Linked DNA regions of Homo sapiens: regions 1, 3 and 4 are each linked to region 2. The links come from fine-mapping of genetic effects on gene expression. A gene starts in region 2. Each other region holds a variant in brackets. All regions are shown on one strand. Distances are from middle to middle. Region 1 overlaps PEPD (peptidase D). Region 2 holds the start of PEPD (peptidase D). Region 3 overlaps PEPD (peptidase D). Region 4 overlaps PEPD (peptidase D).

Region 1 (8,098 bases), 72 kb before region 2:
CCTTTCTCCAGCTTTAAGAAGAGCTGCCAAGATAAATGATTCAAAGACTCCAGCTCATGCTGAAAATATATGGACTGCTTAAAGCCTATTATGAATCAGCCAACACTGGGGAGAGACGCACTGGCTGCATCCTCACCGGACGGGTCATCCTGGCTGCTAAGACCTAGACCCACCCGGGCACGTGGACACTCTCTGGAGTCTTTTCACCCGTGGGATCATGACACTTGCCCAGCTTCAACCAGCACCAGGTGCCCATGCCATCCCCAAGCCTCTGCGACCTCTCAGCACAGGGTGGCCGAGAGCCCCACAGTCACATGCTGGCCTAGCAGAAGTGAGGGGTCCCCTGTTTGCACAGTGCATCCAGGAGGAACTTCGGTCCCCAGCCTTGAAGCTGGGACCCCTTTTGCAAAAGCAGCATGCTCTCAGCCACGGCTGCTCACCACCCAGAGGGGAGGGCCCAGCGGGCATCAGGACCCCGCACCGAGGGTGGTGAGGCCTTTCTGCCACCTCTGCTGATAGGGTCCCAGGACCACGGCTTTCCGATGTGCCTCCCACTGTCCAGTCTATGCGCCAGTCTCCACAGCCATCAGCAGGCCCCACGAAGGGCATCTAGCCCCTCTTATCTTGCTGGGATGGACAGTAAGAAAGTAAAACAGCACCAGCAAAGCCCAGCCAGGCTCCGACTCAACCAGCCACCCAGACATTGGCTGTGTGGGGGACTAGACCGCCAGGGCCCTCCAGCAATGAACTGCGGTCACCTTGGGCTGGAGAAGTAGCTATGGTGCACTTCGCCCTAGCTGGGATGCCCAGGAGGGCCACCTGTGCCACCGTGCTGCTTCTGAAGGTTGTGACATGGGAAGAGTTCTATCCCCAGGTGCAGACATGGAGGTCAGCAATCACCACTCACCAATGAGGGGACCCCAAGTGCTGTCACAGGTGCATCCACAAGGCTTGTGGCACACTCATGGAGGGTGGCCCCAGGGGAACACTGCTGCACCAGTGCCGGATGACTGTGGGTGAGGAGGGACACAGACTCATGGACCCTGGGGCTCTGCCTCCACAAAACGGGCTTTTCTAACAAGAGGGTGGAATTCACATGAAGGAAGCTGGCTGGTTCTGTGGGCAGCAGTGACAATGACCCCAGATCCATTTCCCGCTGTCCCCCTGCCAAGTTCCTGCAGGTGCAGGAGCCCGGGATGCATGGCAGTGACAATAGCATTTGTGCAGGCAGGGCAGGGGCGTGCTAGCCCAGGCCAAGTCTGAGGCCTGTCACTGACATGGGATGGAGCCTGTGCCCACCAGCAGCCTGGCTCCTGGGCATCTAGGCCTGTTCAAAACCTGTAACACGGAAGCCAACAGAAATCCACAGCCAGAGGGAGCTGCGAGAGGACGGTGGCTGAGTGGGTGGGGCCAGGCCAGTTTCCCTCCTGCTCAGCCACCCCCAAGATGCTTCCTCACCCTACTCTGGGGCAGCTGAAGAAGGCAGCTGTGGCCAGGCCCATGGCTCCCTCCTGGACAGCTGCCAGAGGAAGCACGAAGACCCACACTGCCCATCCTCCATGCCACAGACAGAGTCCAAACCCTCAGCCTGAACCACAAAGGCAGAGGATGGCCTTGTGCGGGAGGTTCCTGAGGACGCAAACTCAGCTTCACAGCCCCGGAACACAGAGCCTGCTGTCGGAGTATCTAACAGGGATGGGGAGGAGCCTCAACTTTGGTTTTATCATAAATTACCTCCAGGCTTCAAGAGCAGACATGCCTGCCGGCAGGTATGGAGACAGCCCTTCCTGGATGAAACCATTCATGTCATCCACAGAACTCAGAGCTAGGAGGAGAAAAACTCACGGCCCGGAATAATTACTCCCGCAGGGAGCGTCTTTCGCACCAGCAGGTGATAGGTCTGGATGAGGATTTTCTAAAAACCGGCACCAAACCTCACAGCATAATCACTACTGCCTGCCTGTTCTGGGAGCCAAACCTCAATAACTGCTCCTGCGGGGCTGCTCCTCACTAGATGCGCCCAGGACTTGGAGCCACGCCTTCTCACGGGCAGAACCAGACAGGACACAGCCACCTCCGAGGTGGGCGTCTGGTCCACCTGCCCAGCTAAACACCCTCCCATCTACCACGGGCTCCTTCCGGCATGGAAGAACAGGAAAGGCTCCTTTAGAGTGGGGGACCAGCTCCAGAGGCCTGGAGGCACCCACAGGAGTGAAGCTGGCCAGGTAGTGGCATGCAAAACAGAAAAAAAAGTCTTTTTTTTTCCCCAGAGCTCTCCTATTTTTCTTGAAATACATGACCCTTTCGACTATCTTTTTTTTCTCTTTTGATAGAGATGCTGGTATGAGAAGGCTTTCTCATTTATGAAAGAACCAACAGCATGAAAGCCATGAAAAGAGTCGGCTTCAGTGCTCGGGGAGGTGACGGGGAGCGGTGGGGCCTGTGGCGTGCACCCTGAACGAAAGCTATGTAGCAAGCACCACGCTGCTGCTCTGTGGAAATTCCAGCCCACGGTTACCAGCTACTCTGATTTTCAGGAAAAGCCAAAAAAATCTGATTTTTCAAATTTGGTTGACTTCAATGAACCAAAATAAAGTGTTAAAATACCTATTGCCTGGGCCAAACGGAAACTGCGTGTGTACTGGATGTGGCCCAGAGGCCACCAGTATATAAACTCTGGCCTTTCTCTTGCTAGAAAATTCTTCCTGGAGAATGAGAGGTGGGGACCCAGGGTTTCCCCACACTCCCCAACCAAGACCCTGACGGGACAGAGGCCCCCAGAGGCTGCAGTCCACTCTCACAGGGGCCTCGGGGGAAGGCAGGCAGCAAATGGGGGTGTGGCCAAAGCCAACTCCAGGTAGCTGGCCCACTGTAGAGAAGACATCTTCCATGTCCACCGAGGTGACTCGGTACTGTCTGGACCACCTGGTGCAACTCATAGCCCCCTCCTCAGCTCCTCTGGGGTCGCCCATCTTGCACAGTGAACCTACAAGCAACCTAAACCGTTCCTCCCCCTTTCTTCTGGGCCTGAGCAATTTCAGCAGAGCCCCGCATGGTGGGGTCAATCAGACAGCTCTTGGCCAGCTGTGCAGAAAGAGCCAGAGAGGTCTCCTGGGTGAAAAATGAGAGGAAACCTAAAAAGATCCACCAGCCCATGTTTTCTCAGGATCCATGAGGAGAGCTCACCGGAGAAGCCTGCGCCAAAACAGGAAGGGACCAAGCCACAAAATGCACACAAGAAAACAGCAGCAGAACGAGTGTGCAGGGTCACAGCAGGAGAATGGGAGACAGGCTTGAGTTTCTCACTGGTGCGCAAGTGGACATCATGAGAGGAAGCTAACAGCCCCGGATCACATCCAGGAGACCTAGTACGTGAGGAGGAGGAATTTCAAAGATGACCCTGAGATGCAGAAAGCTTTCACTGCTCAGATGAAAGAAGTCGGTCATAGACTATCGCAGGTGCTCACAGGGACCACCCCAG[GCGGTGTC/G]CCAATGTGCATGGCTCCGATCCCAGCGGGTGCCACGTTACCTTCTGAAACTGATAAGGAAGCCACAGAGAAACCAGGGAATGAAATCTGTCCGGGGTGACATGATCAATAATTATATCACAGGTCTCAGGTAGCAGGACCCAAGGGGATGAATGCTTGCCTCTGGGAGTGACCAGGGAGGTAACAGACAGGAAGCAGAGCATGTGATGCCCCCGCTTGGGTGCAGGAGTGGCCACTGCCACTGGCCTGTCCACTGTGTGCAGACCAGCCTTGCTGGTGGCCAAGCTGCCTCTGTCTCCGCAGATCTGTCACATGCACCACCTGGTCTCTGTGTTAGGTGTGACTGCTTCTTCTTGACTTTTTATCAGTCTAGGTCAGAACACACCCGATGTGAACTTTATGGCCTGAGTTGCTCGTCCCTCCAGACCCCCCGTGCTGCCTACTGGCTGAAGAACTTGGAGGCTAAGCAAGCCCCGGCTTGTGCCCCTTCCCAAGGAGCCTGCCTTCTCCTGGTCCTCCCAGACAGCTGGCAGGATTCTAAGCCCTGAAGTGCAGCCCCTGCCCAGAAAGGCAGTGAGACAGATCCTCAGGAAATACTGTTACTTCCAAGAATCAATAGTCCTATAAGCATCCAGGGCAAGAAAATGAAAAGTTCCCTGGAAAGAAGGAGGAATATGATTTGCTAAAGATCTCTGGCAACAAAGGAGGGAATGGTTTTATGGAACAAAGAGTCAATACCCACTGAAGCCACCATTCACGCAGGAGACAACAAAAGAACCCTCCAACAAGCAAGGCACTGAAAGTACTGAATCAAAACTTAAAGCACTCACACGAGCAAAGGGAAAACATGGTACAAAATTGAGGTCCACATTGGATTGAGTGAGACAGTGCTCACTAAATAACCGTTGGTAAAATGATGGTAAGACAATGCAAATGTTGAAAATAAAGGAAAAAGAAGTTATATAATAAAAAACTAGAAGGTAGGGGAAAGGGAGATTATAAAGTAAAACTGAGGCAGGAGGCGGGACTTGACTCTGGAGGCGGGGCTCGGACACCAGACCAAATGGAGAACTAGCCAAAACAGGTCCCAGGTAAAAGCAGCTTTCCATCAGACACGCCCACCAGTGCGCCATGTCAGTTTACCATTGTCATGGCAACACCAGGGAGTTACCACCCCTTTCCATAGCAATGACTTGATGAACCAAAAGTTACTAACCCCTCCCTAAAAATGTCTGCATAAACTGCCCCTTACTCTGCATGTAATTAAAAGTGGGTATAAATATGACTGCAAAACCGCCCTGAGCTGCGGCTCTCAGCACACTGCCTGTAGGTAGCCCTGCTCTGCAGGGGTAGTCACGGAGCTGTCACAATGCCTGAACTGTAACACCGCTGCTTTAATAAAGCTGTTTCTTCCTACCCTACTACTGGCTCACCCTTGAATTCTTTCCTGGGTGAAGCCAAGAACCCTCGTGGGATAAGCCCCACTTTAGGGCTTGCCTGCCTTGCATCAAAACTATGCTAAGTTTCTAATTTTTTAAGGAAAATTTTCTAGTTTTTTAAGGAAAATTAGAAACTTAAAATTGTTAAATTGTTAAAATTAGAAAATTAAAATTGTTTAACTTTTGAACATAAGTAGAAAACAGAAATACAGGTCTTTTTTTCTTGATTTAAAGGTGATTCTACATTTAACATGGCATACATATAAAAGTGAGCAAAGGAAATTTCACCAACCTTCCAAAGATAGAAAAACTTTTTTAAAGCCACAAAGGAAAAAACAGAAACCAGAAAACACAAAATAAGGCTGTAGAAAAGAGAACAGATGCTGATTATCACTGTGAATTCAAACAGCTCTCCTAACACGGGGAGGCTCTCCATTTGAACAATGAGTATGCTGCACCTTATAAACAACCTATTTTAAAAAGTTAAAAATACAGGGATAAGCAAAGATATGCCAGGAAAATGTAACAACAACAACAAACATAGCAACACCAGTGTCAGGCAAAGTCAGATTCAAGACATAGATTAAATAGGTTAAAAGGGGTTTCTTGAAAGCTATAAAAAGCAAAATATATAATAAAGACATAACAATCATCAACTTTTATGCCTCAAACAATTTATCATGGAAATGAGTAAGACAAAATCTATCATGAATCACAAAGAATTATAAAACCATCTCTCTAAATCTTAGAGCAAATATACAAAAATAGGGGAGGGGGCAGAGGACTGGAATTAGATAATAAACCTGATTCATGTACACCAAAGTATATATTCTAAAGATAAAAACTAAACACTTTCCAGTATTCCATAAAATACTGACCAAAATATTTTTAAATAAGCCACGAAGAAAAACTTCAAAATTAAAAACCAAAAAGATTCACACCAGCTGCATTCTCTAGCTCCAATGGTGACAGAACTAGCAGCTAAAAACCAAAAGGTCACCAAGAAAAATTCAACCACATCTACTGGGAAATGAAAAGAAATACACTAGGTTAGTTCTTAGGTTCAAAAACAAATCACTCTAGACATACCAGGATATAGCTAAGGCAGTATTCAAAAATAAACTAGCCAAAATCTATTTATTACTAAAGAGGAAAAAATAAAAAATAAACTAAGATTCAACTAAACAAGTTAAAAGACAGATGCGTCAAAACAAGGTTCAGGAAGAGAGGAGAAAGGAATTAATAATAAAACTGGAAATCAATGAGTTTGACCAACAGTAGAACTGAAAAATAAATTTAAGAGCTGATTTTATGAAAAGGCCAATAAAGAAGATAAAACTCTAGCAATTATAATCCATAGAGAAAAAACACAAGTTACATTAGGAATGAGAAAGAAAAAACAGCTACAGATATAAAGGAGATATTTTAAAAACATAAGATTTTAAAAATATATGAGAATAAAATTGGTTACTTGGTTACAATGTAAAATCTTTGATGAAAACTAAGACTTTATAGGAAAACATACTTACTGACTCTAAAAGTGATGAATTTGGACTAAAACAATCCCATAGGAAAATCTGAAAAGTTACCAAAGAAATCTTCCCCAGAGAAACAACAGGGTCTGAGAGATTCAAAGGACTTCATGCCTTCAAGAAACAGCCAAGCCCTATGCTTTCCAAGTTGTTTCAGAAAACAGAAAAACATGGGGGTGCTTCCCAAAACATGATCTCAAAAACCTTGGTCTCAAAATATGGCTAAGAGAGTTAAAGGAAAAAAATATATAGCTCAATTTCCTATTTTGAGCCTGTATAAAATGCTAGTGAAAAAATAACAACAATGGCCAGGCATGGTGGCTCACGCCTATAATCCCGGCACTTCGGGAGGCCGTGGCAGGAGGATCGCTTGAGTCCAGGAGTTGGAGAGGCAATATAATGAGATCCCAAGTCCACAGAAAAATAAAAAATTAGCCAGGCATGGTGGCACGTGCTTCTAGTCCCAGCTACTCCAGAGGCTGAGGGGGGAAGGTCACTTAAGACTGGGAGGTTGAGGTTGCAGTGAACTGTGATTGCACCACTGCCTTCCAGCCTGGGCAGTAGAGCAAAACACTGTCATAAAAAAATAAATAAATAAATAAATAAATAAAAAAGCAACAACAAGCACCATAAGGATGCTTAGTGGATGTCCATCTGCTCCATGTGTTATGCATACAGGCATGCCTCATCTTACCGTGCCTTGCTTTCTTTTTTTAGAAATTGAAGGTTTGTGGCAACCCTGCGTTTAGCAAGCCTACTGGTGCCATTTTTCCAACAGCATGTGTTCACTTTGTGTGTGTCAGCATTTTTTAGCAATAAAGTCTTTTTAAATTATGGCATGTACATTGATTTTTTGAGACATAATGTTATTGCACTCTTAAGAGACTACAGTATACTGCAAACATAACTTTTATATGCACTAGGAAACACGAAAATTTCCAATATTTGCTTTATTGCAGTAGTCTGGAGCTGAAGCCGCAATATCTCTGAGGTATACCTGTATATCAATTCATTGGATCCTCCTAATCCTCCTATGAAGTGCTATTATTTTTTTCCAGATGAGGACACTGAGGTAGTGTTATCAATGTGCCCAAGCTGGTAATCAGCAGAGCTGGGACCCAAACCAAGAACACTAGTCTCTGGGGACCATGCTCTACCCACTCTACTATACTGCCTCCTAAGTCGGCTTCTTAAAGTCCTGATAAACCACAATAAAGTAGTGTGTACTGGGATGCCTCACTGGCTCTGCACCAGGACGTCTGGTCATAAAATTCATCTAAGGTGCACCCAGCACCCAATCTTGGTTTCTAATACCATCCTCCAATAAAAGGAACCGGGCTCCTTAGTGAAATGGCTAACTCTGAGGTTGGAGCAGGGAACAGACAAGATGAGCCCGGTGCAACCCGCAATGCCAGAAAGGAAGGGAATGCTCCAAAACTAAAATGACGGGGTGCATCAGAAAGACACAGGAGTCAAACGAAAGAGCCCTCGATGCCCAAAGCTGGAAGGATTTGAGCATCACAGAATACTGGATTATAAAGTATAAAATAAATATCCATGGGTCTATACAAGTTTTTTAAAAAAGAGGCCAGGCGCAGTGGCTCACACCTGTAATCCCAGCACTTTGGGAGGCTGAGGT
Region 2 (8,098 bases):
GGCAGGAGAACCACTTGAACCCGGGAGGCGGAGGTTGCAGTGAGCCGAGATCGCGCCATTGCACTCCAGTGTGAGACTCCCTCTCAAAAAAAAAAAAAAAATGAAATGTGGAGCCACTTCTAGACAGGGTCACACCGCTAAGTTCCCAGTAGGAGAGGCCAGCCAAGGACCAGCCACCTCCTCCCCTCAGCCTCCAGCGTGGGGCCAGGCACCAGACAGATGCTCAGGCAGCCCACTGGGCACCAGACCGTAAGCGCCAGGCTGGAGAGGGTTGCCACGGCGGAACAGGACCTCGAGGCAACTGGCCAGCAACCTCCACCTTGCACCTCTGTCTCCTGGGGCGGATAGGGGTGCCAAGCATACACAGAAACCAAGAGACAGCTGTGTGGAGTCAGGACCTGGGGAAGAGCCAGGGAAGGCACAGGGATACTCAGTGGCCAGCCTGCCTCCCATAGGCCCACCCGTCCCTAGCCCCCAGTCGGCCTGAGTCTTCTGCTCCTGGAGCACAAGGTTCACATTGTGGGGTTGGGCTCTTGACCCAGAATGTGAATTCTGCAGAAGACTCTCCAGAAGAATGCTGACTCCAGTGTAACCTACGGCTCAACAGGGGTACACGTCCAGGGCAGTTCACCTTTGCCTCTTTTTGGCTCTGCAACAGCTCCTGGGAGCCACTCAGTTAAAGAATTAAGGCTATTTCTTCATCCTACCCCTCGGAATTCTGTCCCCATTCCCCACCATGACTCCTTCCCTCAATCACTGGGAGTCTCCCAGGAAAGCAGGATGGGATGCTGGACTAATTTAGAGTAAATCCCCTTTTCATTCATTTCACCAAGCACCAATCACAGGGCAGCCACAGACTGGCCCTGCGGATACAAAAGAACCCCAGGGGTTCTAAGGATGCTAGGAGAGGCATGAAGGGAAGCAACTCCTAACCCACAATGGGCAGACGTGTAAAAGTGTACTGCTGGGGAGAAAACTGAGTGTTCTGGAGTTCTGAGCACTAAACCTTTACCCGAGGGCTGGGAAAGGCTTCTGGGAAAGGGAACCATCTGAGCTGGGCCTGCAAATACGTGAAGAATCATATAGAGGACAAGAACATTCCAGGGCTAGTTGGGTGAGTGTGCAAGGGAAGAAGGGAATGGAAAAAGCCATGTGGGAGAGCAGATGCAGACAGGTCTGGCTGGAGCTGACAGATTTCAAATTATCAATCCTGTCTGTGGAAAGCTCAAAGCATTGCTTAAGGAGACAGCAGCAGTGCCACCAAGTGCCATGGGATAGGGACCCCTCTCCATGAGGGGATGGGAGGTGACCTCAGCGCACTCTGTCTCAACCTGAAGCCTACACCCAGGCTAGCAAGAGAAAGTAGGATCAACCCTGAAACACCCCACATCTTAAAAAGAGAGATGCATTCAGAGTAGATTCTTGAGTTTCAAATTAAATCTGAGATGCTAGTTTAGGGCTTCCCCTACTCCCCAAATCATATGGGGCACACCCCAGTCACCTGGAACTCTCATGGACCCCCTCTGTCCCAGGCTCTGGTAGGATTCTACAGACAACCAAACCCAACTCCCAGTGAGCCCACGGCAATGGCCGTGACTTGCTGGCATCATGCCTCGTTATGCCTGACTCTATGATCTGTTCTGTGAGTGTGGCTAGGAGCTGAGCTTTGCGGGAAACACACTTAATCATTCTGCTCTAAAGGAAGCCACTGGGGTCAACCTCAGGCTCAAAGTACATGGGAAAGCCCCATACCAGACTGGGATGGCTCTTCCCAAGGAGACTGCCAGGCTCTGGAAGCTCCCACACCCTCTCAATAGCAGACCTCTCTAAGACCTGCCACTCTGTTTTGCCTCCCTCACCCACCCTGTGTGGTGGCCCAGAGAATCGGTTCTGCTAGAAAAGCTCTCATTCTGGGGCCAGGCGTGGTGGCTCACACCTGTAATCCTAGCACTTTGGGAGGCGGAGGCGGGTGGATCACCTGAGGTCAGGAGTTCGAGACCAGTCTGGCCAACATGGTGAAACCCCATCTCCACTAAAAATACAAAAAATTAGCTGAGTGTGGTGGCACACGCCTGTAATTCCAGCTACTCAGGAGGCTGAGGCAGAAGACTCGCTTGAACCTGGGAGGTGGAGGTTGCAGTGAGCCATCATGCCATTGCACTCCAGACTGGGCAACAAGAGCAAAACTACGTCTCAAAAAAAAAAAAAGAAAGAGAAAAAGAAAAGCTCTCATTCCAGGATCCAGTCAGTTCCAGACTTGCTCCCGTCCAGACATCAGCTTGGTTCCTTCAGGAGAGCAGCAGGTCTCAGGCCAGCTTGGAATCCTGAACCCAAATGCAACCCCTGGCACTCCCTGTGAGCACCGAGCCAGCCTAACCAGAGAGACAGCACACCCACAGCTGGGCACCAGCCTGCTCAGTCTACCCTTTAAAAGGGTCACAGGCTGGATTCAAGGATCTGACCCTGAGTTCCTTGACACCCATCTGAGACTTTGTCTGCACTGTTCTCTACCTGAAGGGAGTCTCATTGCTGAAGGACTAGCACAAAAGTCACCCAGGAAGTGAAGCCTTCCCACACTTTATCTGAGCTCAGAGTCCATGCCCCTCCTTTGCAAATGGCAAGACCACACGGCAAGCAGATGGATGACAGAGTCCCATGTGTCCATCTGTTCCAGTGGCCTGTGAGTACCTTAAGGGAAGACCCACTGCTATTCCTGGAATATAGCAGGTGCCCACAAAATATTTGATTTGTATGCTCTAAGCTCCCTCAACCTTGGGGGCCAACTTAGAACCCACTTTCTGTTGCCATTTTCCCTGTATCTTAAAAAGAGAGATGCATTCAGTCCACTAGATCCCCCATTCTGACCTCAGTTTCCAACCTGGCATCTGGAATACTGCTCCCTCCTACACCATGCCCCCTCTACCCCACTGTACCACCAGACCCACACCTTCTCCCATTGAACTCACACATAGCTCAGGGGAGCCTAATCTTTAAAAAACAGATCAAGCAGCTTGTAACAAAACCCTTCCAGCCCATCAGGGCAAAGTCTGAAGCCGCCACCTGGAACACCACACCTTCCAACCAGCCCCAGGCATGCACCCCTGTCCCCAGAACACTCTGAACTCTCAACCTTTGTCCCTTACCCTGGGCTCAGATGCTCCCTATCTGGGAGATTCCGCCCAACGCTCTGGTGAACCCATCTGTCCACCCTTCCTCCCACTACGACCACTCAGCTTTCTTTCATTTAGCCCAGTATGGAGCACCTACTGTGTGCAAGGCACCGGGCTACTGAGAAGCAGGTAACATACCTGCCCTTGCACTCTAAATGCAGAGAAGATAAAGAACAAGTACAAACAATGCTCTATATAGTTTATCAGGTGATGATGAGGGCACAAAAAGTGGGATAGATGGTTAGAGAAGGATTCCCTGAGGGGGTGACATTTGGCCCCTGAAAGAAATGGGGAAGTGCCCTGCTGGGAAAAGGGAATTCCAAGTCCGTCTCGAATACCGCCTCCTCCGGGAAGCGCCCGGGTCCCTGGGGTCCTCGCAACGCCGCCCTCCTACCCGGGGGTCTTGGCAGCGAACATGCGTGTCGACCCCAGCCCCCACCGCAGCCGCACACGGTGGGGCCGCCAGACGCGGGCAGGTGGGGCCGGAGCCAGCCAGGAGGGTGGAGAGGAGCTGCGGCCCCCGCGCTGACCCTGACTCGGAGCGTGCAGCTCGCCGACCGGCGCTGGGACTCCGGGCCAACGGGAAGAGGCGCCTACCCGCGGCATTCAGCGACCCCGGCTGACGCTCTCACCCGCGGTCCGGCCGGGACACCCATGCCCCTCTCCACGCCAGCGGGAAAGAGCGAGGGAGGCGCAGCACTCACCCGGTGGCCGCCGCCATGTTCGCCCGGCACCGGCGTCACGTGAAGTGCGGCGTCAGCTGAGCCCCTCCGGGTGCCAATGCATGGGGCGGGGTAAGGGCGGGGCAGGGGGCGGGGCATGGAGTCCTTGACCCACCTCCTCCAGAGCCAAATTCCACGGGACGGGAAGGGGCGGTACCTGGGGAAGGGCGGAGCCCCGATGGGGCGGGGCTCCCGGAGATTGGGGGCCCAAGAGCTCGGCCAGGATAAATGAGCGGGCTGCCGGCTGCAGACAGTAGGTCGGGTTAGCGGGCAGCATCTGCAGCCTTTTCGTGGTGGGAGGGAGGTCCTGAAGCAGAGGACATCTTGATTCTGGTTCAGTCCCCGATCTGGCGTACCAGCCCACCCGGGAGAAGAACACATAGGAATAAAGAAACCACGTGGGAGGAGAGGAGGGAGACTGACCCAGGCTAGGGTCGGGGCAGAGGTGGCGATTTTTGTTTAAGAAGGGAAAGGGCTTGAGCAAAGGCCGTGGGGCAACTGGAGGACTCTAAATGTGCAGCGTCCAGGAGAATGTGCGCGAGAGAGGGGCAGCCTAAGGGAAGCAAGGGCCAGACCCTGCGGGGCCTCCACTGTGGGGCCTATGAGTTAAGTCTGGTAGGATCTTTTCTAGGTTTCCTGGGCTGCAGAATGGAGAAGCTGGAGGAAGGGAAGCCAGGGAGGAGGGCAGGCGAGAAGTGGGCACAGCCGAGAAGGGTTTAGGAGGGAGAGTCTGCCAGAAGGCTTACTCCTCTGCCCCACTGGGCACTGGTACTGGGTGCAGAGTCCTGCAGAGAAGGTGTAGGGACCCTGCAGCAGACGCTGCCCTCCCTACTGCCAACAGAGTCAGGGCATTACAAGCACGGCCCAAATGCGTTGCACATGTGAGCTCATAGAAACCTCACCACAGCCCTATGAGGTCGAGACTATCTTTAAGTCTATTATACAGATGAGGAAACTGAGGCCAGAGAGTGCTCACACAGAGGCTGAGCTCATGAAGCCATACCCTGAGGAGTGACCTCACTGCCCCTGTGAAGGAAGGGGGCCCCACACTGTTGGGGGAGGGCGTCCCTGGCGCCAAGGGTGTACAGATGTGTGTGGTGTACAGATGTGTGTGGACAGGTGGATGGGTGGCCCAGGATAGGCGTGTGGGGCTCCTGACCCCACCCTGCAGCTGTCCCACAGCTGGAAGTGGCTTCTGATCAAAGGTTGTGGGTTGGGGGATGCTTCTTGTTTCTTTATCGAAACAAGGATGTGGGTCACCATGGCCAGGCTGGTGGGAGCCAGGGGCTATGACTGGAGAAGCAGCTTCTGTTTGTCCCCATGAAGCAGGGAGGAGAATAGGCCCCTTAAATAGGAGCAAGGGAGCCAGCCATAAGCAGGGTAGTGAAGGGCACGTGGCACAGTTACCTGGAAGCCCAGTACCATCCCTGCTGTCCTCATCTGTCAGGAGAGAGCTAATGGGGCCACCTCACAGGGCTGCTAGAGGGTTTTACACTCAAACCTGCAGGCACAGCCAGAGACCAAAGCTGCCAGGAGGAATGTGGCCCCTCCAGACAGCCCCTCCCACCTCCCGGTCCCAGATAAGGAAAACGAGAGCTAATGGAAGAGGGGGGGCCTCATCCCTTCTACCCCTTCCCACAACACATGGACAATTTGCAGGGGTCCCTGACCTCCAGGCAAGGTCCAAGAGGAGCTCTCTCCACCCTCTTGCCAGTTTCCAGGAAGAAGAACAGAGGTAAGGATTCACACCCCACTGCCTGGCCTAGGGGCCCCTGAGAACTTCTAACACCCCTAGTTAAGCAGTAGGTCCGCCTTCAGCTTAAGAAACTCAACTCCCTAGTAAGTGGCGCTTTAAAAAATACATAATAACAAAGGGTGAGCAGAATGAGCTTTCCATGCGCCTTCAAGGAAGGAAAACATACCCCCCAGCTCATTCATTGCACCTGCCTCCCACCATTTCTTTTGACATAAAATATGTCAAAATTAAGCCAGCTGCCAGCTCTGAGTGCTTACTAATATGAAAAAGAAGTCAATATCCCAAACACAAAATAATGGAAGGAAGGCACCCACCAACTGAGTGGAGCTCCCTTGTTTGTGGACAGTAATATGGAGGCACTGCCCATGACCCCTGCCCACCCAGGTCCCCTGCCCTCTCCCCTCCCCATCAGGGGCTCCGGCAGGGCTGCCCCTCACCCCTCACCCCTCCCCATCAGAGGCTGTGGCAGGGGCTCCAGAAGCCGCCCAGAATATGGGAGAAGACCATTTAGTTACTTATGCAGGGCAGACCCAGGACGTTGCTGGAGCCAGGAGGCAATTGGGGGAAGATTGATTTTAGAGAGTCGAAGTGGGAGTGTGTAAATCAGCCAAGGCAGCGCGCCAGGCAGCACTCTCATGCGGCATTGCCTCCGAGGTCACAGGCCCTTGTGGCCGAAACAGTCTCCTCTCGTCAAGCCCTGCAGGTGGCTGGTAGATGTCTGCACTCGGTCAGCCTGGTAGCCCGGTAGCCAGCATAGCATTATTCTCCAGAAGGGCCCCCCCAACTCCCGTCAGGCCTTGCAAAAGAAGCTTCACCCTGGGAAGACACCTCTTGTGTCCCGGGACACTGTGTCCAGCCAGGTTTCCCTCCTCCACCCATTCCCCACAATCTAGCCCCCACTCTTGCAACTCCGTGGACGCTGCTGACAGCTGGCTGCCTGGAGACGGCAGGCCCAGATGTGGCGGCCTGCTAGGCTCTGACTCATGAGCCACCCTTGGGCCATGAAGGGGAGGTCCCCGGGAAGAGCCCTGTCCATCTTCTGCTGTGGATTGAGGGCACTGGTCTACCAGAGGCTCTGTGGGACTGCACTGGAGGTAGCCTGGATGCTGGTTCTGCCCTGCACCACCCAGTTGTTGCCCACAGTGCCACTCCAGGACTGGCCATGCTGTGAGGGCCAGGGATCCAGACCCTGCCCTTGCCTAGAGGATCTTTGGTCTGGGGACAGAGGTAGAGGAGCCCTCCACACTGTCCCTGGGGAGTCCACCATCTGGGAGGGCCTCAGAACGGGGCTTCGAGGGTTCTGCTTTTGGCTAATGGGGAGATCCTGGGGGATTCTGAGCTGCAAGCTGCCGATCCAAACCCCTCTCTCCAGCAGGAGCTCAGGAGGATTAGCAGAGAGAACTGAAAAGAGCCAATAAGAGCCAATAAAGCCACTGCACGGGGCCGCCAGCCTCAGATGGTCAAAGCCCTACACAAGATGGCATTTGGGTGTTTTGCGATTGTTTGCTTTTGCTGAGAATAGAAGACTGGATGCAGAAAGCCAGCACCAAATAAACAGAAGAGGAAGAATAGAGGGGACTGTGGGTGTGAGATAGGGGCAGGGTGGCATATGGCAACCCAGTGTCTTCCCAAGTGGGAAAGCAAGGAGCGTGATGGGTGTGGAATGCCCAGGAGACCGTCTCTCTATCCTGGTTCTGGCAGATCCCAGCCTTGGGCCTTTGCAGGGCCTGCAGAGGTAGCCACAGCTCTCCCACTCCAAAGGCCTGTGTGGCCTGCTCCTTCCTCCAGGCCTACACCCCAGCTGTCACCACCATCCATCAACCCCCCTCCTCACAGGAGCCCCCACATCACGTTCTACTCCTCCTCTCCTTTCTCCCCCAGCCCAGCCCACCTGGGCATCTATCTTCCTGTAGAAAAGAGGCAGGCAGAGCTGAGGGGCCTTCCCAAGGAAGCCCCCATCACCGCCTCAGATGAAGTGGTCCCTGCTGAATGCTTTGCTGGGGTCTACGAGGCAATTCAAGATGAGAAATGGAACGGTGGCTTCGGAAAAGCAAATCATTCCAACAGCACCTGAAAACATCGAAGGAAACAAGCTCTTTTTGTGTGTGTGGAAATGGGGAATATATTGTTTCTCACTGTTTCGAAGACTGTTTTCCCATCTTGAAATCACAAGCTGTTTTCTTCCAGAGAGACTTATAAATACATCCAATTATCGACATTCAATATAAGAAATAAAGTTCTGAAATGGTTTTCTTCAGCACATGCAGAGTGAGCCGACCAGGTTGGGCAGGTGATAATTACTTTTATTTCTTACGAGTGGGTATCACCGCGGAGTGGCTAGAAGCTTCACCTTTTATTGCCTTCACCTTTTATTACATTTCCCACGTTGTGCAGGGCTATTCATTGGTAATTTTATTATCCCATATCAAGATCTTGATTAAAAAAAAGGA
Region 3 (8,098 bases), 120 kb before region 2:
CAGCAGCCTAAGGGTGGCAGGGGTGGAGATGCCCAGACCTGCCCCCACCCCCCACACAGAGCAGGGATCCTCCTCAGAGCCCAGCTCCCCATCAGCCCAGCCTCCTAGGGGCTGAGGTGGGGGCGGCCGTCCCGGGGTCTGGGGTCTGGCGTGGGGGAGGCCGTCCCGGGGTCTGGGGTCTGGCGTCGGGGAGGCCGTCCCGGGGTCTGGGGTCTGGGGTCTGGCGTGGGGGAGGGCCCGGGGTCTGGGGTCTGGCGTGGGGGAGAGCCCGGGGTCTGGCGTGGGGGAGAGCCCGGGCAGACCTGGGGCAACTCTGGCTGCAGCTGCCCTGTATCTGGGGCAGCCCTGGGCACACACACCCCTGGCTGGCCCAGCCCGCACCCCTGGCTTTTCTGAGGGGCACAACATCCCGGAAAAGGACACCTGGATAACTGCAGCCCACTTGGCCGCTCCCCCGCCTCCGTGAGCCTCAGCTGCCGCTGGTCAAACAGCCCCACCTCCGTGAGCCTCAGCTGCCGCTGGTCAAACAAACAAACAGCCACAAGGCAGGCCCCGGGGGGTTGCTCTCAGAGCCTCTGTGTCACCTGGGGGCTGGAGGCAGCACCCCGGACAGTGGCATTGGCCACCATTCCTCCATCGCGCATGACCAGCCAGCCCTGGTTCCACACTTGACATTCACTTGTTCCTGGGGGTGTGCGCCAAGCCTGCCCAGCCTCTGCTGCTGCTCTTCTCTGAGAACCCAGCCCGGACAATCCTGGCCCACCTCGCCCTTCCTCTCTGCTGCTGCATCCTCCAGAGGCCAGACCACCCCAAGGCACACAGGCCGTTTTACCTCAGGCCCTTTGCTATGGCCTGTGCCAGGCCTTGACCTGTGATGCCTCATCCAAGGGGTCTCTGCATAAAAGCTGTCCCCTCTCAGAGGAGACCTTCCTGCCTTGCTGTCCCAGGCCTGGTGATTTCTCCTTGCACGGTCCATCCAGCCTGCAGCCGTCCCCTGGACGGATCTGCTCGTTTGCTTCTCATGTCTCACTCCGAGGGTGGGGGTCTCCCGAGGGCACCGCTGGGCCTGGCATAAAGTGAGTGCCCCTCAGGTCTCCCAACAGCCTGCAAAGTTGGCACATGGGGCTGGGAGGCCTCCTGTGAGTGGCTCGTGCCCCAAGCCCAGCTCAACTGCTTCCTCTCGGACGCGCCCTTCTCTGGTCACCAAAGGGGAGCCCCGGGAAGTGCAGCCAGCTTTCCAACCAGGCTAACTTCAGCAGTGGGCTACGTTCTTGGCCCAGCCTCCGCAGAGGGCGGGAATCAGGTATAAATCATGCTCTGCGGTGGCCCTTCCCGGGGGCAGGCCCGGCGCCGCCCAGATGTGCCGGCCCGGGGGTCCCCTTGGCGCCGCTGGTCTTCCTTGCCTGTGCACCCTCGGGGAAGGCCTTGCACACAGCTCTCTTGGCCGGGAGCAGGGAGTTTCTGCCTGTGTGTGGTTAGGGTTGTGACAGTGATTCAACCTCCAGCAACTTGGCCCCAGCCTCTGGCCCGGATGGTGGTTACGACACCCACCGCCTGGGCGGGGGCCCCTGGAGTGTGTGAGGGTCACTGTCCTTGCACTAGGCTGGCAGGGTGGGCACCAACTTGAGGGTTCCCTTGCTGGCCTGGGCCCACTCTCAGGCTCCTCCCACCCTGGCAGCCTGGAGACACCGTCAAGCTCTCTAGTCCAGGCTGGAAGGCACCCCCGGCCCCTAGCCAGCCTATACCCAGATGCCACACTGAGAATCACACAGCAGAAATTGGGCACCAGCTGCCCTGCGTGCCCCAACCCCCAGCAAGCACCAAACCTCATTCTGGCTTTCCCGAAGCACCCCTGCACCTGCCCCACCCCTCCTGGAGTCTGCCTGGCTCCCTCCTCCGCTGCACACCCCTTGGATGCCTGGGCCATCTCTTTAGAACGAACGGGGCAAACAGGGCCATTCCCGGCCCCGGACGAAGCCCAGGTTCTCAGCTTGGCCTGGTCTCCAGCCTCTCCCTCACCCACTCCTGGGTGGGGTGGCTGGACCAAGGCCACGGGTCCCAAGAACTGGCCCTCCCTACCTGCTGTTTCCTTAGCTGGGGCCACCTCCTCCAAGCCCGTTTTCCCAGATGTGCTCCCATTCCTCCTGTGGGCCTCTGTGGTGAGGCTCCTCCTCCAGGAAGCCCTCTCTGATTACCCCTTCCTGTACTTTGAGAATTCACGGAACACACAGCACAGCTGGGCCTGGTTATGACCTCTGGGCCTTGCAAGGGTGGTGCCCGTACTCTGCTCTGTGCCTGGCATGCTGCGGATGCTTGGTAAACGCCTGGAAGGAGAGGAGCCCCAGCTTCTCTCATGGCTCTCCTGCAGCCAGTGTTGTGCCCCATCCCCCACTCCTCTGTGTACTCAGACCCTAGAACGGGCAGGGTGGCCTCTAGGTTAGTGTCCCATCATGCGCCTCATGAAATGGCAGGGCTCAGAGGAACAAGCCCCGCTGCTCCTGCCACCCAGGCCCCAGGTGTGGCCAGCGTAGCCCCTGAGTGGTCTTCTGGGTCCACTTGGTCTCCTCAGGCAGCACCCGCTCCTGCTGGGCCTAGGGCCCAGGCCAGCTCCTTGGAGCCTCAAAGCATCCATCACAGCCCCGAGGCCTCCTACCCGGAGTGTGACAGCCCCAGGGGGCTCCCGGGCCTGACCGAGCTACAAAGGCAGCATCCTCAGAGCTGCCTCCAGACAAAGAGCGCACTTCATCTGTGGAACATGGCCCTCGGGATGGATGGGTGTGAGCCAGGCTCTAGGGGTGTAGGACAGCAGGCTCCGGCCGGGGTCCCAGGGCAGGCCCTGAGGGCTGGCTGAGCTGGCACGGGGCTGAGGACCTCCAGCTCACCCCACCCTGCACGGGACGTGAGTAGAAGAACCCCATCTGCTGCCAGAAATTCTGGGGACCCACTCACCCTGCGTGAGAGCAGGGTGCTGTGTTGGCCCAGGCTGCTCCTCGAGTCTCCTCCCCCACACCCTGGCAGAGTGCCCCGAGGAGTAAGAAGAGGCCAAGGAACTGGCTCACCATTGCGGCCGGCAGGAGGGGTGGACATGGTGCCCACACTGAAGACAGTCCTCCCCGTCCTGGCACCTGCCGCAGAGGGTATCTATGACTGGGGTGGCACATGGCCGCCATGCCTATCTGCCTGAGCCCTGCACTCCACGCCGTCTCGGAGGATGAGGACTGAC[A/C]GGAAGTCTAGCTGCTGGGCCCCTGCCCCTGGCGCTGGCTGGGAGGGGAGCAAAGCTGGCAGAGGTGCCCCCTGACCACGGGGCCACAGGAGACACATGCCAGGTGGGCCGGGGCAGGTGCTGCTGGGCCCCTCTCCCAGCCACCTGGTCATCCCGCGCCTCAGTGCCCCTCTCTCGCCCCGTCAGGACTGTTTTGGAGGTGGGGACACTTCCTGCCACTTCTTTCCCCTCCTCTGACCTCACATTGGCAGCACCCCCGTCACTCACAAGTGGCCAGGACCCTGAGGGCAGGGACAGAGCCAGGAGCGGGGGAACGAAACACAAAAGAGCTCATGAATCGTGGGCCACCATTGCTGTTCCAGGTTGATAGGAGCTGGGCCCCCAGTGACAGGGGCACAGGAGGCTCCTGGGTGAGCACAGGAAAGAGTAGAGAAAGGCGGGGAGGCCAGGGAGGGTGGGGGGGTGAGGAGAGAGGGAGCTGGGTCGGGGCTGGGAGGCGAGGCTACAGGAGGCTCTGGGGCTTGCAGGCGGAGGGCATGGGGCCCTCAGTGCTGGGGTCCTCTGGAGCTCCAGGGTGGCTGCAGGGACTGAGCCCGCGGGACAGGGACAGCTGTGCTGCTTCTAGGAACAGCCTTCCTGCTGTGGCTGTGCCAATGCAGACCCTGACTCAGGGCCACCCTGCCGGGCTCGCCCATCCGTCCCAGCAGCGCCTCCCCCCATTCCCCTCACCATGCATGCAGGGGTCTGCATGGGGTGGGCAGCCTGCCCCAACACAGGAGCCGCGCTGAGCTTGGATCCCACCCAACCTCCCGTGCATGGCACTCCCCGAGGTCCTGCAGCTGCTGGGCCTGCCCTGCCACCCGCCTGTGGACTCCCAGCCGCCAGGGTAGGGTCTCCGTCTGAGCGAGCGCAGCCTCCTTCCTCGCCGACTGTGAATGACAGTGAGGAATGCTCCCCCACCAGCCCTAGGATCAGGGGCCAAGGCCTGCATTCCTCAACCCCCCAGGGTCCTGACCATTCTTTCCTGCCTCTCCTTTGGGCTTAGCTATGGGGTTTCCTGCTTTATTTACTCTCCCTGGAAGGTCACAGGATGCAGTCGGGCAGTCTCGGTGGGGTGTTTGTCTTGGCCCAGGAATTGAACCCACGAACCCAGGGCATTTCCGCTGGGACAAGGCAGGGGGCTGACCTGGCCACGGCCTCCTCGATGCTACGGGAGGCGACCTGCCCCATCCGGAGGGCAGCTCTGTGGGCCCAGGGCCTGCCCCACGGGCCTTCACTGTGTGTGATCCAGATGGAGTCCGACTCTGCCCTTGGGGGACACCAATGCCACACAGCTCAGTGTGGGTGGTAGGTGTGGGGGGGCTGCTGGGGGGCTGCTCCATTCCCTTACACAGGGATCCTCCAGACCCCAGGCTGGGTCTGGGCAGCAAAGCCCAGTGGTGGGTGGGAGCGGGGCTGGGGGAGGACCTGCCTCCCATGGTCTGAGATGAGCCTAGCTGGATTTGGCCTTGTGGCCCCAGACACCCCTGCCAGGCCTGAGGCCTGTGCCTGCCCCAAGAGTCAGCATGAACCAGGCAGCACCACGGGATGGGAGACCCAGCTCAGGCCTTTCTCAGTGCCACATGGGGCCTGGGGACTTGCCCCGAGGTCTGGCCACTTTCTGGACAGAATTGGGGCTGCTGAGTTGGGCCAGGGAGCTGGCCAGGATGCCAGCTGTGGAGATGCCACCCAGGTCCTGCCCAGGCCGCAGCAGGCTTTCCTGCAGGTGAGGCCAGCCAGGGCTGGGCCATCCCTGGTTTCAGCACAGGAGACTGAGGGGTAAGACAATGGCTTTCCCACCGAACACCCCCCAGGCCTTGGCCCCTATGCTGCGTCAATCCGCCGCCCTGCTCCCCGTGGCCTGGTGCTACCTCTGGCACCCTGATGGGCCCGGCACTGCCTGCTGACCAAGCTGAGCTCCTCAGCCTGATGCTTGGGTGTACAGGGTTGCTGGGCTTGGTGGGCCCCCGCCCCTCACAGGCTGCAAAGCTCTGCTTCGCCGCTGGGAGGCTCAGCCCCTTGCAGCCTGGGGCTCTGACTTTCTGGACATCTGGATTTCACGACTGCCCGTGGATGTCTGACACTACCACTTGATGTGATGGTGACACAGTTCGCAATGACACAGCCCACCTTGGCACAGCTACAGAGTGGGAGGCCAGCCCTGTACGTGAAGGGTGTCTGAGAGACTCTGGCCCACCTGAGAGGCTGTGCCCGGCGGAGGGCTCTCCGTGGAGGGTACAGGAGCTGGGCTCACAGATACTAGGTGAATACACCACAGGCCACGCTCACCTGCCAAATCCTCCTGCTGGATCTGAAACACTGATCATTCATTCGAGTGACTAGTGGTATTTAAAACTGAGCAAGAAATTCTCATCCCCAGAATGAAGGAAGGAGAAGGAGTGGCGCCCCTGGGCGACTGCTTCGTGGAGGCTGGATTGGATTTGACAGCTAACGGGGGATGCTTCCCATGGCTGAAGAGTCAGAAAGAATAAGAAGGGACGCAGCAAGCAAACTGTCCCGTCCCTTCCTGCACCTCCTTTATGGTTTTCACAGGCGCACGGGAATTCACGCTCTCACTCCCTCTTCCTTTTACCCACAAGGGCCCGCTGGCCATACCCTCTGGCGCTCTTCTGTCCTCACCCACCCATCTGCCTGGAGACACCTGTATATTCATACTCAGGGGTGGCAGCTCCTTTTTGTTTGTTTTTTGAGACAGGGTCTCACTCCATCACCCAGGCTGGAGTGCAGTGGTGTGATCTTGGCTCACTGCAACCTCCGCCTCCTAGGTTCAAGCGATTCGATTCTCGTGCCTTGGCCTCCCGAGTAGCTGGGATTACAGGCATGAACCATCACGCCCAGCTAATTTGTGTAATTTTAGTAGAGACAGGGTTTCTCCATGTTGCCCATGCTGGTCTTCAACTCCTGACCTCAAGTGATCCGCCCGCCTCCCAAGTGCTGGGATTATAAGTGTGAGCCACAGAGCCCGGCCTGCTGCTTTTTAAGCAAAGCAATTCCGCAGAAAATGCTGTTTTCCTCGGCAGCTGCTAAACCAGGTGAGTCCGATCAGCGCTGTCACCCCATCACAAGCTTATTGACTTTTGGATTTTCTGTCCTGTCTTCCTTTTGGGGCACATCTGGGGTCCCCCTGCTTGCACTCATGCGTTTGTCAAGCTCTGTTCCTGTTGGATGCGTGAAGGTGTGGGGCTGGGGCCTGGCACTGCCCCCAGCGTCCCTCCGCGGCTCCTCAGCCTCTGGTGGGGGCTCTGGAGGCTGGACTGGGCACCATCTGCAAAGGCCTGCCCACAGTCTGCCTCCTCTGAAAGCGACGGTGGCTGAGGGCCCCTCTGAAGCACACTTGGGCCGGCGATCGAGGCTGCAACTCATCCCAGCAACGGGCTGTGGGGCCGCAGGGACTGCTCAGTCGACCGCCGAGCCATCAAGTTCTGAGGCCGCATTCTGGAGGCTCCAGATCTTTCTTTCTTCTTTTTTCCTTGAACACTGAGGGCGCACTTGGCAGCTGCCAGCTCTCTGTGGGTCCTTAACAGAGGGCACTCCATGTCTAACTAGATGCCACGGTCCAGAGCTGGCCAGGCCCGCTCTGAAGTGGACTCTGCCTTGGGAGAGCAGGGGTCTATCCTTCGCCTGTTTGGGGCTTAAGTAAGGTACCTGGCCAGCAGGCGGCAGAGCTGGGGCTGGGCTCGGGGCACTCTGGGTCTGGGGCCTGCATCCTGGACTCTGAAGCCTTGCGCTACTGGGCTATCCCCTCTGCCCGCGGTAAGCCCACCTGGCTCCTGGAGGACGCCTGAGCTCCCCTACACAGGGGGCTGCCTTGGGCCTGCCTGTCTCTCTGGAGGTCTGTATAGCTGTGGGTGAGAGGCAGTGGGCGAGGGTGGGGGCAAGCTGGGGGGGCTGGACTATGACCTGGGCATGGCCAACACGAGGTGATCTCTGACCTCGACCCAGATGGAGGGACTCCAGGCTGCAGAAGGTGGCTGGGGCCTGTGTGCTGAGGGCGGGCCCTGGCCAGACGATCCAGCTGTGAGTACAGGGCCATTGTCCTGTGCCACTGCAGCCCTGGCCCCAGCCCAGACCTGATTTTCCACCTCTGTGAATTTGTGGCAGCCCCAAATGACCGAATTGGCTGGAGACTGTTCTGTTGCTTATAACCAAAGATGCAGAACCTGCGTGCCTTGGGGGGCCAGCTGTGCCTGGGCCGGTGTGGGCAGGGAAAGCCCCTCTGCGCTGCAGGCTGGACCCTGGCAGCTGCCGAACAGATCTCAGTCAGAGTCGTGGGAGCCATGTGCCTGTAGAGGGCCAGGCCTAGGGGTTGGCCAGCACATGGTGATCCCATAGGAACCTGCCCAGGCTCTGGTGAATCCAAGGATTACGGCAGGGGTGCTGTGTTGAAGCCCTGGAAGGCTTGAAGCAAGAACATGAGAAGACCACATCCCTCAATTCTCTCCTCTGGGCAAAGGTGACAAGCCAGGACCTCCCATCACTGCTGGGAAATGGTTTCTATTGTTGCAGGGCAGAGAGCTGGGGTTCGATCCTGTGGGTGCTAGACTCCACCCCTGCCAGGGCTATGGAGGACCCAGGGGTCACTCGGCAGGAGGCTGGCTGAGCGGGATGGGGACAGCGGGAGGTGCCCAGGGGGAACTCCTGAAAGCTGGCCTTGTTGGGAGGATGCTGGCTCCCCTCCAGGGGACCTCCTCTGCCTGCCCTGACAGACATCAACGGCGCGCGGTGGGAGGTCAAGAGGTACCAGTGGGGCCTGTGCAGGCTGCCTGGGGTTGGGAGGGCTGAGGGCAGGACAGGTTGGCCTACGCTGGCCGCTGG
Region 4 (8,098 bases), 110 kb before region 2:
GCCTAACCCACCAAGGGGACCTCTCTCCAGTGCGTTCCTGGGCATCTCTGCCCCCTTTTCGTGTGACGGCCACTCCTCCAGGGCCTCGGCAGACAGGAAAGCTGCCCATGCCGCCAGCCCATGACAGCAGCAGCTTCTGGTCCCCAGAGCCAGCAATCCCTGGTGCACGCGGTGGGTGACGGGAGCAGCTGCGTCCTGTGGGCCTCCTGGGTGTCTGGAGGGAACTGGCATTGCCATTTTATGCATGACATGGACAGAGGCACGGCACCAGTGAGGGGCCCCGGGTCCCAGAAGAGCACTGTGGGGTGCCTCGTCCAGAGGTGGGTGAGACACAAGGACAGCTGCCAGGAAAGCACAGTGGGGTGAGGCCCGGGCGTCAGGGCAGTGGCCTTGGCAGGCGGGAGGGAGAGTCACACGCGCAGCACATGCTGTATTTTGCTTTTTTTGGTGACCAGTGTCTCATGATGTCTGGGAGCACCCAGGATGTCTGGACAAGTGCTGTTCAAACTGTGGGTCATGACATCAGCTGAGGAGGGTGCAGCCACGAAGCACAAACAAGAGACAAACCGAAAACGCGTGGGCAGGTGTCTGCTCATAACCAGGCCTGTCCATGTGTATGAGGACGGGTGAGAATGGAGAGCACGCTCCTAACTGGGATGGGATGGGACGGCCATGCCTGTGGGTCTGGACCCTCCTGAGGGCGTTCTGTGGCCCCAAGAGCATGTCTTTAAGACCGCAGAGTGCTCAGGGCAGGGCTGGCTGGTGACAACAAGTCTCCCTCGGAGGAAACAGCAAGGTGGTGGGGGAGAGCTGGGCTGGGACAGGCAGCAGAGAGCAGGCCTGGGGGCAACGCTCTACCCTGGAGCTCACCAAAGCATTGGGCCCCAGGTGGAGTGGGGCAAGGGGGTCCCCAGGAGCTTGTCACCCATGGGGTCCGCAGCGCGATGGTGGCAGACAGACTCAGGCTGAGTAGACAGCAGGAGTAGGCTGGCCGCATCCCAGGCTGCAGGGCCCATGTGAGGCCAAGGTGGCTGCTGAGGTCCTGGGTGAGCGGGCACCCCATGGCCTGCAGGGTCGAGGTCTCGCCATTATCTAGCCAGGGAAGGAGGGGAAGAGGGCACTGGTGGCTGCTGAGTGTGAGGGCTGGGACAGGTCTCTCCTCCTAGCCAGGCTGGCCACCCACCCCCCATGCCCAGGAGCAACACAAAAGACCAGGCCCAGCAGGGGTGAGGCCTGGCCCATCGTCCTGAGACAACACTGCCCTCTTCTGGCCAGTTCTGGAAGGACAGGCTTGCTGCCCACCAGCTGCATCCCGACTGGGACAACCAAGGCCTGGGGCATCCTGGGACACGTGCTCTAGAAACTCTGCGAGGGGCCACAGTAGATTAAGGCCCCCCTCCAACCCCCACCACCTGATCGGGAAGTGAGGGAGGCAGGAGGAGTGTCCCAGCTGCTTTCCCAACCAGAGCCCTCCACCTCTGCCCTGTGGGGTGAGCCTCTCCAGGACCTGGGGCGGCCTCAGGCCCGGAGTGCTGCAAGGGATGGTCCCTCTCTGGGCGCACTGCTTCCCAGAATCGTGGACCATGCGCCCCCTGCCCTAGCTGCGAAGCTTGCTGGCCTGCAGTGGCTCTGGTGCCCACAGCCCAGGCTGTTTGTGGAAGGAGGGGGCAGCACATGGGGGCTCAGAAGACGACCAGGAGAAGCAGGGGGATGAGTCCTGGCCACCTCTGTGCTCACACAAACCTGTTCGGGGCTGGAGTGAGTGGGGAGGGGTCTTCTGGGGCCTCCCACTTAGGAATGGCCTCCAGTGATCTCAGGCACCTCAATCTGTGTGAACATGTTGAAAGTGTTAATTAGCAAGTGTGCTGCGCTTTTGTAACCCTGTTCTTGAAGGTCTGCCTGAGGGGTTTAAAAAGGAAAACAAAAAAAGCAGCGAATGGCCCCTCTGGTACAGTGACTTGGAGATGGGGTTCATGGCGAACCCCAGGATCACAGCGGGAAAAGACTCTGAGAACAACAGCAAAACCCCCGGAGGCTTGACGGCTACAGGCCCCACATGGGGCCGCTTGGCTCTGAACCAGGCTGAGGGTGTATGCAGCCACCACAAAGTCCCGTCCCTCACCCCTGCGTGCATGCGAGTGGGTGTGGTGGCATCACACCCAGAGAAGCGGGAAGGGGCCCGGGGGTGGCTGGCTGGGGGTGAGGGACGGCCCTCAGGAAGTCTGTCTCAGTCCTTGGCTGACAAGCCTGACCTGAAGCAGGAACCAGGGTGTCTGGTTCATAGGCCCTCTTGGACCATGACTGTGGCCAACAGTGGACTCAGCCTAGCTCCAGGGAAGCTGCTGGAAGGGTAAGGACGGAGCAGTAGGAGGGGGGCCTAGCCAGCCCCAAACCCCGCTTGATGTACGCATCATGGAGGACACTTTTGGGTCGAAGACACGGAACAGGACAACCAGGGGACGGGAGCTGTCTGAGAATAAACCAGGCCTGGCCTGAGCTCTGCCTGTGGCTCCCACCTCCAGCCTGTGCTGCAGAACCAGCTGCTGGAAGTGGGCATCAGGGCCTGGCCTGCCCAGCTCGGTGAGGACACCGGGCCTGCTGCTCTTGCCCGAAGAGGGCCCACGCTGTGCCAGGTGGCCACTGCGAGAGAGGGAGGCAGGGGCTTACACTGTGATCATTGCAACGCAGCACAGCCTCGGTCAGTTCCCTGTGTGTGTATCCATGTGTGTGCGTGTTGGGGGAGTGCTCATATCTGGGACTGTGGAGAGAGGGATGGAAAAGGCTGGCCTCCTCTTAGTACCCCCCACCCTTCTGCAGTACAGCTGTATAATCTGGCTGCCCTGGACCAGCTCTGATTCCCCACAAAATCCCATTCCTAGAAGCTAAAATATCTCTGGGGTGTCTTCCCCCAGTCAAAGGACTAAAACCCAGAGCAGGCCATTGCAGCAGGCGCACTGCTCTGGGAGGCGCTCGGCTTCGGGGGAATTCTACGCTGGGCTCATGCTTTAGTTTCATACCTTAGGATGAAGCATCGTGGCTTTCATGTTGGGATAACAGACTGATTTATTATTTACCGAACGCAGTAGGCGCTCGGCAGATCAATTTCAATACAACAATGGACTATAAATGCCACCAGCAATCTGGCAGTAGCAGTAATCAACAAAACATGTTGTTCTAAATGCTGCATAATAAATTGACTACAATAAACTCATAATTACTCTACTGGCTACATTTCAAAGTTAGCACTAGAAAAATCAAATCACCAATTTGGACTTGGCATTAACATCCTCGGATCACTCCTGCCTCTACAGCTGCAGCTGGGAGATGCAGGTGCCATGTGCTGTCCCGGAGGGCCGAGGCCACAGCATCTGGGATTATGCCAGGACCCTCTCCGGGGCAGATAAAGAGGGTCATAAAGGAGCAGTCACTTCTTCTGGGGTGTGCTGAGCCCACAGAGGAGAAAAGCTCATGGCCACGTGGCTCTGGCACAGGGCTCTCCAGCCACCCAGAAGTGCCCCCTGGACTGTGGGGACCCACTGATGTGGCCTCTGCCGTGAGACTGGGTTCCCATGTCCTGTCCTCCAGGCCCAGCCAGAATGCGCTACAGGGTTAAAGAGCTTTAGAAAAGGTTTCAGGGCTGGGCACCGTGGCTCACATCTGTAATCCCAGCACTTTTGGGAGGCCGAGGCAAGAGGATCACTTAAGTCCAGGAATTCCAGACCAGCCTGGGCAACATGGTGAGACCCTGTCTTTTTAATATTAAAAATAAAAAAATTAGCTGGGCATGGTGGCTTGTACCTGTAGTCTCAGCTACTCGGGAGGCTGAGGTGGGAGGATCTCTTAAGCCTAGGAGTTTGAGGCTGCAGTGAGCTATGATTGTGCCACTGCACTCTAGCCTGGGAGACAGAGCAAGACCGTCTCTTAAAAAGTTTCAGGACACCAGGTGGTGTCTGGAGCCACTGGTGGGTCCACGGTGTGGGGGCAGGGCTGCCACCCCCTCTCCTGCTCTAGTCCCCTGCTGAGCCAAGTCTGAGTTTGCCAATTCTTTCCCCAAGTGCCTCTGGCCTCACACCTGGGCCTGGTGCCCTCCTTGTGTCTGAGTTCCTTGGCCCACACATGGGGTGAGGTGCCTACATCGCAGGATCAGGGCGAGGAGTGGGTGAGAAAATCCACAGAGACCCAGAAGAAGGGCCCAGTCACCTTGTGGCCCCAGGCATGTAGGAGGAAAGCTGAGCTCCGCTCTGACCCTCCCAGCCCCGAGCACGGTGGCTACGCAGGGGGGACTGGGGACTCGCCCACCATTTGTGGGGCTCACTGTGGTGCCAGAGTGAACCAGGATCCGTGGAGCCAGTGCTGTCGGGTAGGCCAGGGAGTCCACTAAGGCCCAGCGCGCAGTGGGTGGCGGTTCCACTGGCCTGCCTCCGCTTGCACCCTCAACCTGCCGTGTTCCTAACACAGCCCTACTGTGGCGGCATATGCTGGCCCCACCCAAGGTCTGAGCTGAGCTCCTGCCAGCATGGCCTGAGCTGGAACAGCTCATCAGCTATGGACCTGGGTGAGCGGGGAGCCCGGGCAGTCTCAGTAGGCCATGTGCCCAAGGGCAGGGAGGACCCCGAGACTGAGTGTGTTCCTGCAAATACTCGGCCCTGACAGCTCAACGCTCGGCAGCTCTCTGGGCAGCTGGTTGTCTGTCCATAGGTCTGGGCATGTGTGTTCCTGTCCTTCAGTGGGCATGGCTGGGGACTCTGGGGGGTGGGCTCCCACGACTACCTGCTGTAGGGTGAGGCGGGGTCCAGGCCGGTGAGCAGCCATCATGGGAACTCCCGCTGGAGGAGCTGGCACATTGGGGTGGCTCCTCGATGGGAAGGCGGAGGCAGCCCAGCTGG[G/A]CGCCACGCAGGCCTCAGAGGACATGCCATGCTGCTGGGGGGCAGAGGGCTCTGCAGGAGGCTTGTTCGGGTGCATCTGCCATAGAAGAAAGGGCACCAAAGAACTGGGAGGGACAAGGCACATCCTCTGCTAGTCAGTGACCACAGTGAAATGTCTGGAGGCCAAGACAGGGCCTGCGTGGCTGTGGCTGAGCCCCAGGGCTCCAGCACTGGGGTAGCTCTCAGGAGCTCTGCACTGCCTGGGCTGGCCCTGGCTGACATCTGACGTGCAGGGCACAGGCAAAGAACGCGGAGGGACTGAGCAGAGGCCAGGCTGCAAGTACTCACACACCTCCTCCCTGCCCCGGGGCAGCGGCCCAGCTGCTCTGCCCTGCACACCGAGGGGCTGTGGGTAGGACTGCAAGTCCTCCAATGAGAGAAAAGACTACCCGAGGGGCGGAGGCCGCAGGGCCTGCCCACATCTCCTTGTCGTGGCTTCTATGAAGAACTGTGAGCACGGCACATCGTGCTCAGGAAAGCCCTGCACGCAGCCACGGGTCAGCACTGCTGACTTGCTGAACGCAGGGCCGCAGAGGCCACGGGCTCCTGCAGCAGGAGGATGGCAGGTTTCAGAGCGTGGGAGGCTCCCTGCGGTCTTCCCAGCTCCAGACCAAGAGGCCTGCCCTCCTGGCACCAAGACAGAAAGATGCGAGCGTGGTGCCCCCTGAACGGAGAGGACAGCCTGGACAGAGGCTGGGGATGGTTCAGGCCCCCTCAGAGAGCCCACAATCCCATGGCCCACAGGAAACCATCGGGGGCCCCTCTCCTGCACCCTCTCTCTCAGTGCTCCCTGGGGGGTGCAGGCTTTTGGCCCTGGAGAAGGCACCACGCAGGCCGATAGCCTTGGCAGAGAAGTCTGGGCCAAGAAGCCCAGGGACTTGCTGTGGTCAGCCCTCTCAGGACAGGGACCCAGAGGCTTCTGGGCCATCTTGAAGTTGAGTCCAACCTTGGCCTGGCTGTTCACACACAGAGCCAGGGCCGCTGGCCCTACTTACCACATATCCCCATTCTGGATCGTTCGGTCGTTGGGAGCTCCGGCGTGTCCGTAGTGTAGCACGGCTGAGTTCTCACCACTGCAAAGAGCCGGGGGAGGGTGATCAAAGCCCATTCTTCTGCAGCAGGCTCTGAAGGAGGGGGTGGATGCTCGATCCCCTGCCCATGAGCAGCACTGTCCCCACCTCCAGCACAGGCCCAGGCGTGGCTGGACCAGGTCCACAGCCAGAGGTAAGGCCGGGGGACATGGTGGCCCTGTCACCCCGCAGTCACATGGCTGGCAACCAGCCTCAGTCTGCAGGCAGAGCCTCCTGGCTGAAGGCGTCGTTAGGCGGCTGCCCTCTGGGCTGGGATGTGGGCATCATGTGGAACACATGTAAAACTTAGCAATGGGCCGGGTGTGGTGGCTCACGCCTGTCATGCCAGCACTTTGGGAGGCCAAGAAAGGCAGATCACTTGAGCCCACAAGTTCGAGACCAGCCTGGGCAACATGGCGAAACCCTACCTCTACAGAAAATGCAAAAAAAATTAGCTGGGTTAGGTGGCTCACAGCTGTAATCCCAGTTACTCAGGAGGCTGAGCTAGGAGGATCACCTGAGCCTGGGAAGTGGAGACTGCAATGAGCTATGATCATGCCACCGCACTCCAGCCTGGGCAAAAGAGGGAGACCCTGTCTTTAAATTAAAAAAAGAGCAAAAAAGGGGAACAGCAGTTCCTGGGCCTGGAGAAGGGCCCTACGGAACCCCTCCTTTCCTGGTGGCCAAAGGGGAGAGGGCCTCTATGGAAAGGGCCCCGGCTGTCCTGGAGCTGCCCTGGCGTCCTGACCAGGCTGGAGAGAGAGGAAACCAAGAGGATCCTCGCTCCTCTGCCTGAGAAGGCTTCCCTAATGAGCGATGCCTTTAAGAAAAAAAGGACTTTTAAGTCTGTCCAAAGGGGGGAAGGAAACCCCCACCTGGGTGTAATATTTATGGCCCTGCTCAGGAGTCTTGGGAATCATAAAAGTAGAAATAATGGTTTTCTCTCCATCCACCAGAGAAGAACATTTCCAAGGACTGAGATTTCACATGTATTATTCATGTGCCGGGGACGTGCGCATTGGCAGAGCTGCCTGGCTCCATCCTGGCCGGGCAGGGGCCAGACCCGAGGGGCAGAGAGCAGGGAGACTGGCTGGGAGAGCGCAGGAGACGAGGGGGCCACGCCCACAGCCAGGACGCATGTGGGGGCAGACACACCCCAAGGGACACATGCCGCTGTGCATGGCCCACACAGCATGGCAATGATCCCATATCACTGTCATTTCTACCATGTGTGTGCCTCCAAGCACACCCAGCCAGGTGTTGATGGCACACACCCAAGCGCACACACCCACACAGAGCCCTGCCCCTCGGCACCATGTGCCACGAGCAGGCACACCAACAGTGACATGCACACCCACATACAGCAGCACTGGTCCCCACGCAGCCACACCCACATAGACACACCACCACCACTTTCTGCACTGACCCTTCCACACTCCACCCCTGCTGCACACAGAAGCTGCCCAGCCTGAGCTCACAGCCCGGTCCCCACATGCTGTGTGTGTGCCCGTGTGGAGGAGTGGCCTTCCTGTGCTTAGCTGCTGTGCTGACCAGCTGGGGACAGGAGGGAGGGGACGCCAAGCAGCCCCTCTGCAGTGGGCAGGCCATGCTCCCTCCTTCACCCAGTGCCAGGTCCTGCAGGCAGAGGCCACCTCAGCTCCGGGAGTCTTGGGAGGGAGGAGCGACTTCCAAGCTTGGGCCGGGCGCTGGTGTGGGCGTGTGAGTGAGCAAGTGTGGCTGAGCTGGGGGATGGTGGAGCCCCCCACTCACTAACTGCCCTACCTCCTCCCACTGGTCACCCCCAGGGGAGCCAGGGTGCCCCGCTTACCTGCCGCAGATGCAGGTGTAGGAGCTGTGGCGCATGCCGCCCCGGGAGTAGCAGTAGTGCTCGAAGAGGCTGCAGGGGGAGAGACGCGTCAGGGTTGGGGCACTAGAGCAGGCACACCCCACTCCACGAGCCCCATGAACCCCAAGGGAAGGCCCTCGGCCCATGGTCTCCCCTGCCGTGGCCCCACAATGGTCCAAACTCTCAGTGTGAGTCTGTGAGGCTTACAGCCTGGGGGTCAGTCATAGGCTGCAGAATCTCAGAGGCCAGTGTGGAGT

The links.
Region 1: its variant is fine-mapped to the expression of PEPD in whole blood (INTERVAL, PIP above 0.99).
Region 3: its variant is fine-mapped to the expression of PEPD in skeletal muscle (GTEx, PIP above 0.99).
Region 4: its variant is fine-mapped to the expression of PEPD in whole blood (TOPMed, PIP above 0.99).

Annotation. Positions count from the first base shown.
Region 1 is chr19:33,446,275-33,454,372 of GRCh38, forward strand. The region is part of intron 9 of PEPD (peptidase D); the gene reads right to left. Among named protein-coding and RNA genes, the nearest start is that of PEPD, 71 kb to the right of the region's middle. The variant GCGGTGTC/G (reference allele first, on the strand shown) is at 3,482.
Region 2 is chr19:33,517,870-33,525,967 of GRCh38, forward strand. PEPD (peptidase D) reads right to left here and starts at 3,922. Exons shown (of 15, transcript NM_000285.4): 1 at 3,875-3,922. The coding sequence starts at 3,891. LOC105372370 (a long non-coding RNA gene) reads left to right here and starts at 4,065. Exons shown (of 3, transcript XR_935918.3): 1 at 4,065-4,145; 2 at 5,552-5,627; 3 at 7,530-7,908. RefSeq lists enhancers at 3,223-4,186, 4,187-5,149 and a silencer at 3,932-4,131.
Region 3 is chr19:33,393,031-33,401,128 of GRCh38, forward strand. All of the region lies in intron 12 of PEPD (peptidase D), which reads right to left. Among named protein-coding and RNA genes, the nearest start is that of CEBPG, 23 kb to the left of the region's middle. RefSeq lists enhancers at 1-245, 2,233-3,062, 3,063-3,892. The variant A/C (reference allele first, on the strand shown) is at 3,224.
Region 4 is chr19:33,405,752-33,413,849 of GRCh38, forward strand. PEPD (peptidase D) reads right to left here. Exons shown (of 15, transcript NM_000285.4): 10 at 7,824-7,892; 11 at 5,921-5,998. LOC124904692 (a long non-coding RNA gene) reads left to right here. Exons shown (of 2, transcript XR_007067229.1): 2 at 1-3,214. Among named protein-coding and RNA genes, the nearest start is that of CEBPG, 36 kb to the left of the region's middle. RefSeq lists an enhancer at 949-1,506. The variant G/A (reference allele first, on the strand shown) is at 4,887.